2 separate regions of the Homo sapiens genome follow, and region 2 is linked to region 1. Evidence: fine-mapped expression QTL. A gene starts in region 1. The other region holds a variant in brackets. All regions are shown on one strand. Distances are between the middles of the regions. Region 1 holds the start of EPB41 (erythrocyte membrane protein band 4.1). Region 2 overlaps EPB41 (erythrocyte membrane protein band 4.1).

Region 1 (9,019 bases):
CAAAGTTCAAAGAGCTAGCCAATTTATTTTCAAATATTTTAAGTGGATACAATTCAATTTAAATAAAAAATCAGCAAAATAAGTATAAACAGACTTTCATCATAATCGGATTTTCCCAAAACCAATATTTGAAGCAAAGTGTCAGTAAGGTGGGTAGTTCTAAATGAGATCAGCACTCAATATAAAATATCAAAGTTCTCCTTTCTAACACCTCCAAGTTCTGAATACTCCTCACTGCTACAGCATTCTTCTTTATCTTTCTATGTATTCATTAAATAGCAGCAGAGTAAATCAAAATACTAATCTAACCCAGTGTGCACTCCAGAGTAAGTTATATTGCATTTGACTAAACACACCATGAACCCACTCTTAAAAAGGACGCACAGTAAAAGCCACCAGTGACATACCAAGAAACTTAAATGAACAACAAAAAATAACATACATTTGGCATCTGCCTCTCCTCTCCTCTAACTAAATGCTATGATAAATGCAATCAAGCAATTACTTTTTCTTTTTTCTCTTTGAGACAGAATTTCACTCTGTTGCCCAGGCTGGAATGCAGTGGTCTCAAACTCAAAGGCTCAAGTGATCCGTGGGCCTCGGCCTCCCAAAGTGCTGGGATTACAAGCATAAACCACTGCACCTAGCTAGCAATTACTTTTCAATAATTTTGGATCCTTCACATACATAAGGCCCATAACTGATTAATTCAGAGGCCATCTTTGGGGGCTTTATTTAGAGGAAAAAAACAAAGTTATTCATAAGAAAAGTTATTGGAATTATTGTTGTTTAGCTCACAAAATAAAGTGATTCCATGTTCAAGTAATTAAAGAAAAAATTCAAATATAGAGGTAGCAATGAATCCACATCTGAATATGCATTTAACCAAACACAAACTTGATGAAACTCAGAAAAATACAGGCCATTGGCTGGGTGTGGTGGTTCATGCCTGTAATCCCAGCACTTTGGGAGGCGGACGTGGGCAGATCACGAGGTCAAGAGATTGGAGACCATCCTGGCCAACATGGTGAAACCTCGTCTCTACTAAAAATACAAAAATTTAGCTGGGTGTGGTGGTGTGTGCCTGTAGTCCCAGCTACTCAGGAGGCTGAGACAGAAAAGACAAGAAAAACAAAAATACACTGGCAACACTTATGCTGTCCTGCCTCTTAGATAACAAGGAAACAGACTGTGGTCTACATCTATGCTCCTCTTGATTTCAGAACCAAACTCAGCCTCTCATGGCCACTGATATTCTAAAGTTATGAAATCAGATTAGCAATATGAAACTGGATTACTACATTAAAAAAAAGTAAGCAAACTCTATCATTCACACCAACAATTACACACCAGGCATGGTGGCTCATGTCTGTAATACAGACTAAGCTGGGCACAGTGACTCATGTCTGTAATCCCAGCACTTTTGGAAGCAGAGGTGAGACGATCATTTGAGCTCAGGAGTTTGAGACCAGCAGTTTGAGACCAGCCTGGGAAACAATAGCAGGACCCCGTGTTTTAAAAACGAAAAAAAAAAGCTGGGCATGGTGGTGCACGTCTGTAGTCCCAGCTGCTCAGGAGGCTCAGGTGGGAGAATCACTTGAACCCAGGAGTTCAAGGCGGCAGTGAGCCAGGATCATGCCACTGCCCTCCAGCTTGGGCAACAAGGTAAGATCCCTGTCTCTAAAAACATATGTATACAGGGCCAGGCACGGTGGCTCATGCCTGTAATCCCAGCACTTTGGAAGGCCGAGGCGGGTGGATCACGAGGTCAAGAAATCGAGACCATACTGACCAACATGGTGAAACCCCAACTCTACTAAAAATACAAAAGTTAGGTGGGCATGATGGCAAGCGCCTGTAATCCCAGCTACTTGGGAGCCTGAGCCAGGAGAATTGCTTAAATCCAGGAGGTGGAGGTTGCAGTGAGCTGAGATCATGCCACTGCACTCCAGCCTGTGTGACAGAGTAAGACTCCATCTCAAAATAAATAAATAAATACACACACACACATACACACACACACACACACAGAGAGAGAGATGGCAAAGCAAGGGTTATTACAGAGTAGTTCTATTTGGTTGCACAATACAAAAAATAAGGAGAATAAAGGTGGAAAGGTAGATTGTAGCCATATTGCATAAGAACTTACAAGACATTTGGTATAAAACACTTAATAAATGTTGGGAGAGGCCGGGTGAGGTGGCTCACATCTGTAATCCCAGCACTTTGGGAGGCCCAGGGAGGAGGATCTCTTGAGTCCAGGAATTCAAGACCACCCTAGGCAACATAGTGAGACTGTCTCTACAAAAAATAAAAAGACATTAGCCAAGCATGGGGGCACACGCCTATAGTCCCAGCTACTAGGGAGGCTGAGGCAGGAGGATCACTTGAGCCCAGGAGTTTAAGGCTGCAGTGAGCCGTGATCATGCCACTGCACTCCAGCCTGGGTGACAGAATGAGACCCTGTTTAAAAAAAAAAAAAATTGTTGGGAGAATTTTGGTAAAACCTACAGATTAAAAACATTTATTTCTAAGCCTGAATTCAAACATACAAGGAAAAATGTATAGTTTTGTTGGTAGAAGACAGAGGAATCAGAAGGTTGGCATTCTGAACTTATGTTCAACAATGAGTTCACCTTTTTTTGAGACAGTTTTGCTCTGTTGCCCAGGTTGAAGTGCAGTGGTGCAATCTCGGCTCACTGCAACCTCCGCCTCCTAGGTTCAAGCGATTCTCCTGCCTCCACCTACTGAGTAGGTGGGATTACAGGCACATGCCACCACACCCAGCTACTTTTTTGCATTTTTAGTACAGATGGGGTTTCACCATGCTGGCCAGGCTAGTCTCGAACTCCTGACCTCAAGTGATCCACCCGCCTTGGCCTCCCAAAGTGCTGGGATTACAGGCGTGAGCCACCGTGCCCGACATAGTTCACTTTTAATAGTGCCAAAGATATACTGTACTTGTTTCCCCAGGTGTATGAATAATATCTATATTTACCTTAATTATAAGCTTCTTATAGAAAGCACACTGAATTAACTACTTTGATTCTAAGGCAATCTGGTGTTCAGTTATTACATCTATTTTTGAATCTGCCATTTATTGAGTGCTTACTGTACGCCAGATAGCATGTACGCTACATGGATTATATTAATAACACCCCAAACCAAAAATTTTACAACTGGCGAAGAACTGATTACACTTTCAATTTACAGAAAAGGAAAATGAAGAGTACATCAAGTTTCCATAAAAAGTAGGGGTTAGTGCTACATTAACAAAACTGGGACGGGAAGAAACATATACGGGCTATATATCCTGCTTTTGATTAAAGGGATCAAACCAACTAAAATTTTTGCCAGGACTGAGAATACAGAAAACAACAATGAGCAACAGCATTGACTACAGTACATCCTCAAGAGAGTATAAATCCACTATAATAATATCCAAGACACAAGACACAACCATTTCTTGCAATTTTCCCTAAAAACAGAAGGGAAGAAAATAGCAGCTGTGAAATCACCCAGACTACAAAAAAAAAAAAAAAAAAAAGCATCTGAAAAAAAAAAAGGAAAAAGAAAAAACTATCTCCTAATGAACAACTACATGCCAAAAAACAAGTCTCCACAGACTAGTCATTTATGGCAGGGTACAGGGTACAGTTAAAGAAACAACAGGATGACAGTCGCTATCATGTGGCCAGAAACCAGTCCATCAGCAATCTGTTTCACGTGAGATCACTTTTTCTCAAGAGAATGCCTGTTCTTGGGGAGCATGACCTGTTTTGGCAAAACCTCCCCAGGAATAATGGCCTGCTGGTCAATCTCGGAGGGCGAGCCCAGACCCGGCCTCTCCACAGGTACAGCAGCCCAGCGAGCACGGAGGAAGATTTCCAAGCCGACAGATGCGCGAACTGAAAAAGGAGGTCACGACGCTGAGAGAATAGATTTAACCCTCTGCTCGCTGGGAACCCAGAAGACTAAGGGGGAACATGTTTTTCAATGATGCAGGCGTCGGTGGCGGGAAGGCCTGCGAAGTCTTGCCAGGGCTCCCTGCAGTCCTCAGATTCCGCCTGACTTCTGCAGACAGCCCAGCTCCCTCGCCAGGAAGAAATCGCTCCGCGGCTGCACGCAACACCTTCACCGTCTGAAACCTGCGATTCTCCGCATTTGGTTTCCTCCCGAGGCTCCTGCACACCGCACCGTGATTGACGCACCCGAGGGGACCGTCAAAAATACATCTCAAGCCTAACTTTCCAACACTCCCGCGACGCAACCCCTTCCCCTTTCCTCAGCGGCTCTGGCCCGCCCCTCGCTCCTCGGGCCGCGTCCCGGCTGGCGACTCGGCGTGCACACGAGGCTCCTCCGCGGGAGAGCCCGCGCCCCGGCCCGGGGCCTGTCGGGGGTTGCAGACAAAGAGGCTGCAGCGCCGCCGCGGCCGCCAGGACCGTCCCCACGGGGACAGCTCCACGCCCACCGCCCCGGCTCCCGCGCCGCCGCCGCCGCCTCGCCTCACCGGTGGCTCCGGGGCCGGGCTCCTGCGCCCGCCACTGCTGCAGCCCGACGAACAATGGCAGGAGGAGGCGCCGGCGTCCGAGGCTCGGGCCCTCTGCGGCTCGCGGGCCCGCCGGCTGCTGCTGGCTGACTGACTAAACGCACCAGCGGAGGGAGGGAGCGAGCGAGCGACCCTGGCGCGCGCCCTCCCGCCTTCCCTCTGCGAGGCGAGGCCAGCCCGGCCCGCAGCCCGCCCGCCGGCCCGCGCCCCTCCCCCTCAGTTCGCCACAACATTGTAGTAAATTTCTATTGGGCCGCGCCGGAGGGAAGGAGGGGGCCGGGCCCGCGGCCCGTCCGCCCATTGGCTGAGGCCAACTTCTAGCTCCCCTTGTTTCCCCCCTCCCCTAGGCCGGTAAGGAGAGGAGAGGGGAACGAAAAAGAGAGAGGAAAAGGCAAGGGGCTGGCCGCGTGTGCGCACGCGCAAGTCGAACCCGGTCTGGAGCCGGGGTGTTCCGGGATCCCGCAGCACCCACGTGGGGCATGAGGCAGCTAGAGCCCTGGACGGTGAGGCCCTTTCCTCCTTCCAAGTAAGAGGCCGAGATTTGGAAGCCTCAGGGAAGTAACTCGCGTAGAGGTTGTAGCCAGGCTACCCCAACTGACTCCCCCTAAACGCTTAGTGACCTCGGGTAAGTCACTCAGCTTCTCTGTACCTCAGTTTCCCCATCCACTAGTTTGACTGTCTCTAGGCGCCCTTCCAACCCTGACATTCGATGAGACTTTACCTCTCGTGCCAGCTGTGTAAGGCCTGAAATGGAAGCTAAGTGTTGAGACCACGCCAAGATTGAACCTGTCTTCTGCATTTAAGGATCTCCTAATTCCCCCCTGGCAATCTCAACATTATAAAGACCTAGCTTCCGAGGTCTGGTCTCCAGATGAACTGAGGGTTGCTCTGACAATTGCTTAGTGTGTCTTTATTTCCTTCCAGAAGTGTCAGAGACCCCTTGACCCTTCCTACTCCCTGCTAGGCTGGTCTGTGAACAGGCTTCGGACCCACAGTGCAGAAAGAAGGCTTTTGTTTTAAGCATGATACCTAGAAGGTAAGATAGGATCTGGTGTTCTATTTTAGAGATGAGGAAACTGAAGCAGAGAGACTTAAAACTGACAGGATAAGAAGCCAGGCCATCTGACAGCAGAGTCTGTAGATGCCAGCTAGACATTCCTGATATCTAATCACAGCCCCTTCACGATCCCAGCACAGCCTCTGGAAACAGATTGCCTGGGTTCAATTCTTAGTCTCCAGCCTTTTCTAATGGTTTGATTTTCATTTTTCTTTTATTTATTTATTTATTTATTTGAGACGGAGTCTCGCTCTGTCACCAGGCTGGAGTGCGGTGCCGGAATCTCGGCTCACTGCAACCTCTGCCTCCCGGGTTCAAGCGATTCTCCTGCCTCAGCCTCCCGAGTAGCTGGGACTACAGGCGTGTACCACCACGCCCAGCTAATTTTTGTATTTTTAGTAGAGACGGGGTTTCACCGTGTTAGTCTCGATCTCCTGACCTCGTGATCCGCCCTTCTCGGCCTCCCAAAGTGCTGGGATTACAGGCTTGAGCCACCGCGCCCGGCTGTGCCTCATTTTTCAACACCATAAAAGGGGATAATATGTCCAAGTAGCTGGGACTCCCACCTATAGTGGGAGGCTGAGGTGGGAGGATTGCTCAAGCACAGGAGTTCAAGGCCACAGTGAGCTAGGATCATGCCATTCCACTCCAGCTTGGGCAACAGAGCAAGACTCCATCCCTAAAAACAAAAACGAGGGTTGGGGGAGGGAGAAGGATAATAATAGTTCCCACCTCACAGAGTTACTGTAAGAATTAGGCCAGGCATGGTGGCTCATGCCTGTAATCCCAGAACTTTGGGAGGCTGAGGCAGGCGGATCACCTGAGGTCAGGAGTTCGAGACCAGCCTGGCCAAATGGTGAAACCCCATCTCTACTAAAAATACAAAACTTAGCTGGGCCTGGTGGCAGGCACCTGTAATCTCAGTTATTCTCGGAGGTTGAGGCAGGAGAATCACTTGAACCCAGGAGGTGGAGGTTGCAGAGAGCCGAGATCATGCCATTGAACTCCAGGTTGGGTGACAAGAGCAAGACTCCATCTCAAAAAAAAGAAAAAGGAAAACAGAATTAAATGAGTTAAAATATGTAAAGGACTTAGAGCAGTGCCTAGCTCATAGTAAGATCTATGTGTGTTAATTATTATTACTATTCAGAGACTAAAATGTGGACTGAGAGGTGTGGAACTGGCAAATATAATAATATATTTGTTAAGCATGCAATTGTTGTTAGCACTGAGCTGAGCACGTTATGTAAATTGTCCATTTGAAACATCATAAAACCCCTTGAAAACCACCTGACTATACCATCTAAAACACCCTCCACTCAAACACCCTTATCCTGCTTTAATTTGCTTCATAGCACTTACCCTACTTGACTTTCTACTATATATTTATTATTTATTGTGCCTCTCAAATAAATTGCTGTAATCTAGACCCACTAGACTGCAAGCTCAGGAAGGCAGGGACTGTATCTGTATTCATCTCCCAGAACAGTATACGCTCAATAAATATTTGTTGAATGAGTTAATGAACATCCTCATTTTACATATAAGGAAACTGAGTCTTAGTGAGGTCAGGTGACTTGGCCAGGGTCATTCTGTGTATGAGGGGTGAAGCACCTGTTTTTTTTTGAGAAGGGGTTTCGCTCTTTTTGCCCAGGCTGGAGTGCAATGGCACGATCTCGCCTCACCTCACTGCAACCTCTGCCTCCCAGGTTCAAGCGATTCTCCTGCCTCAGCCTCGTGAGTAGCTGGGATTACAGGCATGTGCACCACGCCTGGCTAATTTTGTATTGTTAATAGAGATGGGGTTTCTCCATGTTGGTCAGGCTGGTCTCGAACCCCCAGCCTCAGGTGATCCACCCACCTCAGCATCCCAAAGTGCTGGGATTACAGGCATGAGCCACCATGCCTGGCCACACCTGTTCTTAAATACTCTGGTCTCCTGCCTCAAGTCCTCAGGTTCAGCTGTGCTTTTTATTCAGAGTTCTAGTCCTACCACCTCTGTGCCTCAGGCTTCCTTCACCAATCAGACAGGAAAATCTGGTACCTTGAAGGATGAGTATAGAAGACCAATTACCAGTGGTTTACCATCTCCACCACCACCAAGTTATCCAGCAAATTCAGATTCATGAAAGCCCAGTATTCTCTATGCCATGAAGTGCTAGCCAATGGCACATCTAATTGGATGCAAAGAATATGTAGCATTTAATAATCCTTACTCTGCAAATAAGTAGAGGTCTCAGGCTAACAGCAAAAGGCTAGACACAAGGCAGGTATGAACTACTCTGAAATTCAGAGTGCCATGCAATAACACACCATAATCCATTGACTCAGGCTTTAGAATCTGAAAGACCTGAATTCCAGTGCTGGCTTTTAATTCTTAGCCTGGAGATGAAAGGGCTTTGTAAACTGTAAAGTACTATCCACACATGAGGAATTTTTGTTATTTTAGACACACATCTTCAGTTGTTAGGCTAAGTGCCCAATCTCTGAGTGTTGCCAGGCCTATCACATAGGAAGATGTGGGGGTATAAGTAATGCCTAATATGAAGGTGGAAAAACTACCTTTACTCCTGGGCCCATCTGCCCTCTCAGACTTCTGCAAACCAGGTATCCAGTCCCAGCTCACCCTGCAGAGACTGCCATCAGGTACCAAGGGTAAAGGTCCCAAGCACCGTCTCTGAGGCTAATTTCCAAGGCAGAAACAGCTCTGCTCCATGCTCACATCTGGGTGGCAGCTGTGCTATGCCCCAAGCCCCAGGATGGGGTCCCTAAGGACCATCTCTATCTCGCCTGCCAGCTGAGCCCACCATTACCTCCCCACCCCCTACCCCTTGTGTTCCTTCCTAGGGAATACAGGCCCCGCTAGCTGCCTGTTAGCCCCTGGAGCAGTCAAGGGCAGTAAGCAAAAGAGAAAAAGAAAAAAAAAGACAGTGTGAAAGGGTCTTAATCCTTCCCCACAGCAAACTGAGCCCAAGCAAAAGCAAACACCAGCTGCACATAAGAGGGTGAAATTAGATGGTGAAATTAGGTGGTGACCAGTGGGGAAGGCCAGGGAGTGTAGATGAGGCCTCAGATGACCTGGTAGAGATGAGACTGGAAGAAAGCGGGGAGGGGCGGGGAAACCATACCCAAATCTGGGACGTGGGCGGATTAGGGACACAGCTGGCCTGAAGCCCTGTGTCTGTTGTGGAGGGTGGCAAGAGATTGAAGAGGGCTTTGAAAAGCTGGGCCCACCAACAAAGTGTTCTGAACAGTACTGTTGAATGAAAACTGATGCTGGTACCAAAAGTATATGAAGAGTAGTGCTTGCCATCCTGCCTATGGCAGGATAAAAAATCACAGTTATTTTAGACTTGTAAACACAAATGATAAATCAAACAGGCTATAATGGGATGGGAATTACCATTCATACA
Region 2 (9,019 bases), 130 kb before region 1:
GGTCGGGAGTTCGAGACCAGCCTGGTCAACAAGGTGAAACGTCGTCTCTACTAAAAATACAAAAATTAGCCAAGTGTGGTGGTGGGCGCCTGTAGTCATAGCTACTCGGGAGGCTGAGGCAGGAGAATCACTTGAACCCGAGAGGCAGAGGTTGCAGTGAGCTGAGATCGTGCCACTGCACTCCAGCCTGGGCAACAGAGCCAGACTGTCTCCAAAAAAAAAAAAAAAAAAAAAAAAAAAAACAGAAAAAGAAAAAGAAAGAAATGCTCATTACTCTGTCATAATTTCCAATGAAAGAACTAATTCCTTAGCGGATATATAGGAAAAACAGCAGAAATTCAAGAATCCCCTTTATCAGCCAGGCGTGGTGGCTCACGCCTATAATCCCAGCACTTTGGGAGGCCAAGGTGGGTGGATCACGAGGTCAGGAGATTGAGGCCATCCTGGCTAACACAGTGAAACCCATCTCTACTAAAAAATACAAAAAATTAGCTGGGCGTGGTGGCGGGCGTCTGTAGTCCCAGTTACTTGGGAGGCTGAGGCAGGTGAATGGCCTGAACCCAGGAGGTGGAGCTTGCAGTGAGCCGAGATCGTACCACTGCACTCTAGCCTGGGCAACAGAGCAAGACTCTGTCTCAAAAAAAAAAAGGATCTCCTTTATCTTTCCATGAAAAATCTGCGGCCTCTTGCACAGATTGCTACTACTGGGTTAGTAGTAATAACTCTGGATTAGCACAGAGCTACTACTAATGGGTGCTTTAAGCAGTCACTGCAAGAGTGGCAGATGGCAGACCAAACCTGACAACACAGGGGAATGTGACAAAATATTTTGCTCACAGTTGTGTTTAAGTATCATTATACATGTGTATTCACACCTCCTCTCAAAGAATTAATTCAACTATGCCTGGCATCATAGAAACTTAGCCCATGCTTTCACCATGTGTTATTTTGCCACTTGTCTTTGGTTTCAATCCAGTACTAATACTGCAGAGCCAAATGATTTATGTCTTCAGCATTCCTAGCCTTGGCAATCTGTACTGTATGTGGAAAAGAAGGTATTAGTGTGGAAACTGACAGAAACAGAGTTCACAGATTGGAAAAATAATAACATTACAATAAAAAGCTCTGGCTGTGAAAGGCTGCGTGGAACAGAGGCAAAAGCCAAATCACGAGTCTTAGGCCCACACTCAGTCACATATAGTAGTGTGCCTAAGGCGTGGAGCTTAATCTTACAAACTTTAGTTTAATCATCTGTAAAATATGGAAGATATTAACTCTATAATATCATGGTAGTGATCATGGCTTTTTTTAACAGCTTTTTTTGAGATACAATTCACATACCACACAGTTCACTCATTTAAAATATATAATTCAATGCTTTTTAGTATATTCACAGTGTTGGGGGTAAGGATTGCTTTTTAAGATGTGTGGGTCTTCAGTTTTATTAATTCAGCTGTTAATATTTACAAGATTTTGGTGCATATATAGACAATACATAACTTTAAAAATCCAGTATCTCCCATATCTGAGGGTCTACATAAAGAAAAATGCTGATGGTGACCCACTAACTTCAATACTATATTGCTCTTGGCTGACAACAGAAACTTAGATAGTTATATACTACAGCAGTAAAGAATAAAATTCAAACCATCAGACTGAGTAAAGGCAAACAACTTCTACTTCTAGCTGTTATTTACTAGCACAATTTCTGCTAGTATGCGGTAGGGTGGTTCTTTTATCAGAGGACCACATAAATCATTTGTGTCCTCTGATACAATGTTTGTTTTTCAAGACAAAAAACAAAAAAATCAGATGATGCTCAGGCCCACTCTAGTGAGATGAGCTATCCAAGAGTGAGGCTTGGGCATGTGTTTTGTTTTAAAGCTCCAAAGGTGATAAGGATGTACACCCCTGGCAAGAATCACTGTAACCACTGCTCACTGAATGGATGAACTACCTGGTTGTGTGGCCCTTTCTTTTGTGCTCCAGTTTCCTCATGAGTAAAACTGTAATTCCTAAATGTTTTCTCTTATTGACTAAGTTGCTAGTATTAAATAGGAATACATGGAAATGGTTTGAAAAGCAAAAAGTGCAAGAAAAATATAATCTTTGTCATCATTATTAGCTACGCTTGCAACTTACTACTCTATCATAAAACTGGGATCTGAACCAGTTTTGGTACTCCAGCTGGTGAAGCAGATGCTCTAAGCACCACACATAACAGAAGAGGAAGGGAATGCTCATTTTTATCATTAAAATAAGACCCCTTATAAAGCAATTCTTGTAAAAGTTTCCCTGATACACCATCTCTAGCTTACAGAGTTATATTAATCTTTTGAAAAGGGAGGGGTGACTCAACGGGAAAAAGTATCTTTTAAGGAGCACAGAGAAGTATCTAAGGAAAGGAGGGAAAAATAGTTACACAGACATATTTCCACTTTTTATACTATAGTACAAAGAGAAAAATAAGACATTTAAAAACAGAACTACAAAAAAAAATTGTCCTATTCAGTTTATATGCACTTCAGATACTTAAAAGATAGAACAGTGCCTGGAACATACTAAGTGCTCAAGGAATATTGACTATTAACTTTTATTCTACTCTTTCTAAAAAAAAGAAGTCATCATGGTGAAGAGTAAAAAGCATGGGCCTAGGAGAATTGTCCCGGATTCCCTTCTAATTCTTTCCAACTAGCTATGTAACCTTAGGCAAGTCACTTACATTCTAAGGTTAAGTTGTAAGAAATAATGAACATTAATGAGTATCTAGTTCAAGAATTTTTTTTAAAAAAGCTCAATAAAAGCGTAAAGAAAATAATAGGCCGGGCGCGGTGGCTCACGCCTGTAATCCCAGCACTTTGGGAGGCTGAGGTGGGTGGATCACCTGAGGTCAGGAGTTCGAGACCAGCCTCAACATGGAGAAACCCCGTCTCTACTAAAAATACAAAATTAGCCGGGCGTGGTGGTGCATGCCTGTAATCCCAGCTACTCGGGAGGCTGAGGCAGGAGAATTGTTTGAACCTGGGAGGCAGAGGTTGCGGTGAGCCGAGATCACGCCATTGCACTCCAGCCTAGGCAACGAGAGCAAAACTCCGTCTCAAAAAAAGAAAATAATAAAGATATCAGCTGGCATGAGTTAAACTATATATAATAGGAAAAAAACAACAAAACCAAAAGTTGGTTCTTTGAAAAACTTAAGACAATTACTTTGTACCCCATAAATATATACAATTATAAATTGTCAGCCAGGCTCGGTGGCTCACTCACGCCCGTAATCCCAGAACTTTGGGAGGCCGAAGCAGGTAGATTACTTGAGGTCAGGAGGTAGAGACCAGCCTGACCAACATGGTGAAACCTCGTCTCTACTAAAAATACAAAAATTAGCCGGGCATGGTGGCGCATGCCTGTAATCCCAGCTACTTGGGAGGCTGAGGCGGGAGAATCGCTTGAACTTGGGAGGCAGAAGTTGCAGTGAGCCGAGATCACGCCATTCCAGCCTGGGCAGCAAGAGTGAAACTCCACCTCAAAAATAAATACATACATACATACATACATACATACATAAATTGTCAATTTACAATATAAAAAAGAAAAGATTAATAAAATCAATATACCTCTACCAAGGCTATTCGAAACAAAAAGGTACAACTTACCAATATCAGGAATGCAAAAGTGGACCCTGCTATAGTTCTTACAGATATTGAAAAGATACCCAGCTTTATGTAAATATATTTGGAAATTTAGATAAAATGCACATTTCCTAGAAAAACACAACTAGGCCAGGTGCGATGACTCACACCTATAATCCCAGCACTTTGAGAAGCCAAGGTGGGAGGACTGCTTGAGCCCAGGTGTTCAAGATCAGCCTGGGCAACACAGTAAGACCTTGTCTCTACAAAAAAAAAAAAAAAAAATTAGCCAGGCGCGGTAGCGTGAACTTGTGGTACCAGCTACTCAGGACGCTGAGGTGGGAGGATCATTTGGGCCTGGGAGGTCAAGGCTACAGCAAGCTATGACGGCACTACTGCACTCCAGCCTGAGAGAGCTAAGACTCTCTCTCCAAAAAAAAAAAAAAAAGGAAAGAAAGAAAGAAAAAAGAAACACAATTTATCAAAACTGAAACAAGAACTAGAACATTTTAATAGTCCCTTATCTAATAAAGACACTGAATCTGTAAGTAAAGAACCTCCCACAGTGAGATCTCTAGGACCAGATATGGCTTCATAGGCGAATTCTTCTAAACAGTAACAAAGAAATGACAACAGTCTTTAACAAACTCTTCCAGAGAACAGAAAAAGAAGGAATTCTTCTCAATTTATTTTATGAGACCAGCATAAACTCGAAACTAAAACCTGACCACAACATTACAAAAGGAAAATTATAGGCCTATCTCTCTTATGAAAATAGTTGTAGAAATCCTAAAACAATAAAAAAGAAAAGAGTATTACGACCAATTCGAACTTACTCCAAAAATTCTTAGGTCGTTTAAAAATTGAAAGTAAAAATAATATACCACATTAACATAAAAAGGAGAAAAATCATTTTATTATATCAACTGATGAAGTAAAAAGCATTTGATAAAAGTAACACTAATTCACAATTAAAATGTGTAGGAAACTAGAATGACAACTTCCTTATATGATAAAGAAAATACCATATAAGGAAGCTTGATGAAATACTGAAGCTTTTGCCCTAAAATTGGGAAAGATGATAGTTATTAATGCTTGTATTCAGCATTACATTGGACGTTCTAGCCAGCAACAAAGCAATTAAAGAAATTAAAAATGCGAGATGGAAAGGAAGACATACAACAATCATTATTTTCAGTTGATGTTGAGTACACAATAATGTATACCCCAAATAATCCACAGATAAACCATTAAAATTAATAATAAATTTTTTAGGGCTGGGTGTGGTGGCTCACGCTTGTAATCCCAGCACTTTGGGAGGCCGAGGTGGGTGGATCACGAGGTCAGGAGTTCGAGAACAGCCTGACCAACAGGGTGAAACCTCGTCTCTACTAAAAATACAAAAAATTAGCCGGGCATGGTGGTGGCGTGCACCTGTAATCCCAGCTACTCAGGAGGCTGAGGCAGGAGAGTCACTTGAACCCAGGAGGCAGAGGTTGCAGTGAGCCGAGATAGTGCCACTGCACTCCAGTCTGAGTGACAGAGTGAGACTCTGTCTCAAAAAAAAAATAAAATTAAATT[A/T]AAAAAAAATTTTTTTAGTAAGATTACTGAGTATAAGGTCAAACTAGAAAAATTAATTGTATTTCTATGTACCAAAACAATTGAACAAAAAATAAAAAATTTAGGATACCATTTATTTTATTTTGTTTTATTTTATTTTATTTTAGAGACAGGGTCTCACTCTGTTGCCCAGGCTGCAGTGCAGTGGCACAAGCACAGCTCACTGCAGCCTTAACCTCCTAGGCTGAAGTGATCCTCCTGCCTCAGCCTTCCATGTAGTTGGGACCACAGGTGTGCACTACCATGCTCAGCTAATTTTTTTTTTTTTTTTTTTAGAGACAGGGTCTTGCCATGTTGCCCAGGCTGGTCTTGAACTCTCAGACTCAAGCGATCCTCCCACCTTGGCCTCCCAAAGTACTGGGATTATAGGCATGAGGCACTGCAACCAGCCAAAAACCAAAAGATACCATTTAAGATAGCAAACGATGGCTGGGTGTGGTGGCTCACTCTTGTAATCCTAGCACTTTGGGGAGCCAAGGTGGGAGGATTGCCTGAGCCTGGGAATTTGAGACCAGCCTGGGCAACATGGCAAGACCCTGTCTCTAAAAAAAAAAAAAAAAATTAGCTGGGCATGGTGGCATGCACCTGTAGTCCTAGCTACTTGTGAGGCTGAGGTGGGAGGATCACCTGGGCCTGGGAGACTGAGGCTGCAGTGACTTGTGATCGCTCCATCGCACTCCAGCCTGGATGACAGAGTGAGACCCTATCTAATAATATTAATATAAAATAGCAAATGACATCAAATCTGTAAGAATAAATCTAATGAAAGATGCACAAGTTACCTACACCAAAAATCACAAAACATTACTGAGAGAAATTAAAGGAAACCCAAACAAAAGGAGGGTTATAGCATGTTTGTGAATCAGAAGACTCAATATTATAATACCAATTATCTCCAAACTGATCCATATAATCAACTAAATCCCAATAAAAGTATTAAGACTTTTTTAGTGGAAATAGAAAATCTGATTCTACAATATATAAGATAACGCTAAGGGCTAAAAATAGCCAAGATAATCTTAGAGAATATTGTTAGAGAATTTAAACACTTATAAAAGCTAGAATAATTAAGATAGTGTGGTATTGACACAAGGGTACACAAAGATCAATACAAGAGATTAGAGAGACCAGAAATGAACTCCCAAATTTATGGTCACCTGATTTATAACAAAGGTGACACTGGAATGCAGTAGGGAAAGAATGGTATTTTATTTTATTTTATTGTTATTTTTGAGACGGAGTCTCACTCTGTCATCCAGGCTGGAGTGCAGGCGCGATCTCAGCTCACTGCAACTTCTGCCTCCTGGGGTCAAGCGATTCTCCTGCCTCAGCGTCCTGAGTAGCTGGGAATTCAGGCATGTGCCACCATGCCCAGCTAACTGGCTAATATTTTTGTATTTTTAGTAGAGACAGGGTTTCAACATGTCAGCCTGGTTGGTCTCGAACTCCTGACCTCAAATGATCCGCCCGCCTCAGCCTCCCAAAGTGCTGGGATTACAGGTGTGAGCCACCACATCCAGCCAATATTTATTTATTAAATACACTGTAGCAAGAACTGTGGTAATTACCATGAAAAGTTAAGACCATACATCTTAAAAAAAAATTCAGAATATAAATGTAATAAGGCAGTCAAGATGTGATTTCTGTAAAGCTTTCTAACTTGTTCAAGGTACCAAAGCTCATTAACACTTGACTCTTTGGTTATCTTTGCTATCAGGAAAAGACAATACATCAGGCATAGTATCTATATAACCATGAAACTCCATTTAGCAAGGAAAGCCATGGAACATGCTATCAGACAGACCTGGATTTTTGTCATAGTTTGCAACTTACTGTCTGTGAGATGCTGAACAAGTCACTTAAACTTTCCAACCTCAGTTTTCTCACCTGAAAAATGGGGATAAAAAGATAATTCCCCACACATAAGGTAAACTAGAAGTAAGGTGATTTACTGGACAAGGAGGGAGATGCCTGATATTGTTATCTGAATATGGCAAAGACATGAAGATTAAATGATTATGCCTCAAACTTAACTTATCCACAGTAGGAGTTTTTATTTTCCATATCCCCAACTCTGCTACTCTCCCAGATTTTCTCATTCTACTAAATGATTAAGCCAAGCAATAAAACTTGAGTTTCTTTTCCTTATCATCTCCAATACTTAATTTGTCAGCAATTCAGTCAGCCCTATCTCCAAATGTATCCCTGACTACTTTTCCCTGTCTTTGTTGCCAACACTCAAGTCCAGGCTGTCCCAGACTCTGCAACAGCCTTCGCCCTGCTTTTCACTGACACTTCAATGGACTATTCAGCTGTCAGCGATCTTTTAAAAATGGGATTCAGATTGCATCACTCCCTCTAATAGCTTCCCAGTGCAAATGAAATACAATCTAAACTCTTTACTGTGACCCACAAGGCCCTATACAATCTGGCTCCCACCTACTTCTCCGACCTCACTTATTTTGTACTCCTCGCCCCTTCATTTTCTGGAATCTAGACCTATGCTGTCTGATATGTGAGCTACACACCACATGTGGCTATTTAAATTGGAATTAAAATTCCGTTCCTCAGGCACATAGCCACATTTCAAGTTCTTAGCTTAGCAGCTATTGGCTGCTGAACTGGATATCACAAAATGAAAGATTTCCATCAGCACAGAAAGGTCCATGGGACAGCACTGCTCTAGACACATGGCAAGCTCATTCCTACTTTCAGGACTTTGTACTTGCTACTCCCTCTTCTGCAAGGCTCTTTCCCCAGATTTTGAGATGGCCGGCTCCTTCACATAATTCAGGTCTCAGCTCAAATGAAGCTCCTCAAAGAAGCCTTCTAAATTAGATTGGACCATCCAATCTGAAATACTCCTTAATTTCCCCCATCCCCAGATAGTCTATATCCCTCATCCTGTTTTATTTTCTCCACAGCATTCATCACCATCTGAAATTATTTTGTTTTATTCTTCTTTGTTTCCAATGACAGAAGGTAAGCTCCATGAAGGCAGAGACTATGTTTGTGTGCTCACGGCTGTATCTCTAGTGACTGGAATACCATCTGGCCCATAGGAAAAATTGTTGAACAAAGTAATAAATATGTATCTGAAAGAACATGAGTTTTGGAGTTAAACCAACCTGAATTTCACTCTTAGCACTTCCATTTACCAGATGTCACGTCTTATGAAAAGTCATTTTAATCTCCAAGCCTAGTTCATAGTGTTTTCATGAAGATTAAGACAAAGCATGCAACATGCCTTGTATTGTTACTATTAAAACAGCCCCTCAGGAGAGTAGAAAAACACCAAAAAAAAAAAAGTTGGGGGGTGTCATGTCTATAATCTCAGCACTTTGGGAGGCTGAGGCAGGCAGATTACTTGAGGCCAGGAGTTCAAGACTAGCCTAGCCAACATGGTGAAACCCCATCTCCACTAAAAATACAAAAATTAGCCAGGTATGGTGGCACATGCCTGTAATCCCAGCTACTTGGGAGGCTGAGGTACGAGAATCACTTGAATCTTGGAGGCGGAGGTTGCAGTGAGCTGAGACTGTGCCACTGCACTCCAGCTTGGGTGACAGAGTGAGGCTCTGTCTCAAAAAAAACAAAACAAAACAAAACAAAAAAAACAAAAAAGCATGACTCACAGTATGGAAGCACAAAAGTCCTACTGCTTAGGTGATCTTTTTTCCAAATGTGGCTGACCCCTTCCTGATTCCTCTAAATTAAGGACATATGCTCTCATAATGCCTTGTTTCTTCCACTATGATGAATATTATAAT

What was found. PIP is the estimated chance that this variant, and not a neighbour inherited with it, causes the effect.
Region 2: its variant is fine-mapped to the expression of EPB41 in whole blood (TOPMed, PIP above 0.99).

Annotation. Positions count from the first base shown.
Region 1 is chr1:28,910,260-28,919,278 of GRCh38, reverse strand. EPB41 (erythrocyte membrane protein band 4.1) reads right to left here and starts at 4,710. Exons shown (of 21, transcript NM_001376013.1): 1 at 4,511-4,710. RefSeq lists an enhancer at 3,906-4,065 and a silencer at 4,286-4,945.
Region 2 is chr1:29,042,312-29,051,330 of GRCh38, reverse strand. The region is part of intron 11 of EPB41 (erythrocyte membrane protein band 4.1); the gene reads right to left. Among named protein-coding and RNA genes, the nearest start is that of TMEM200B, 77 kb to the left of the region's middle. The variant A/T (reference allele first, on the strand shown) is at 5,211.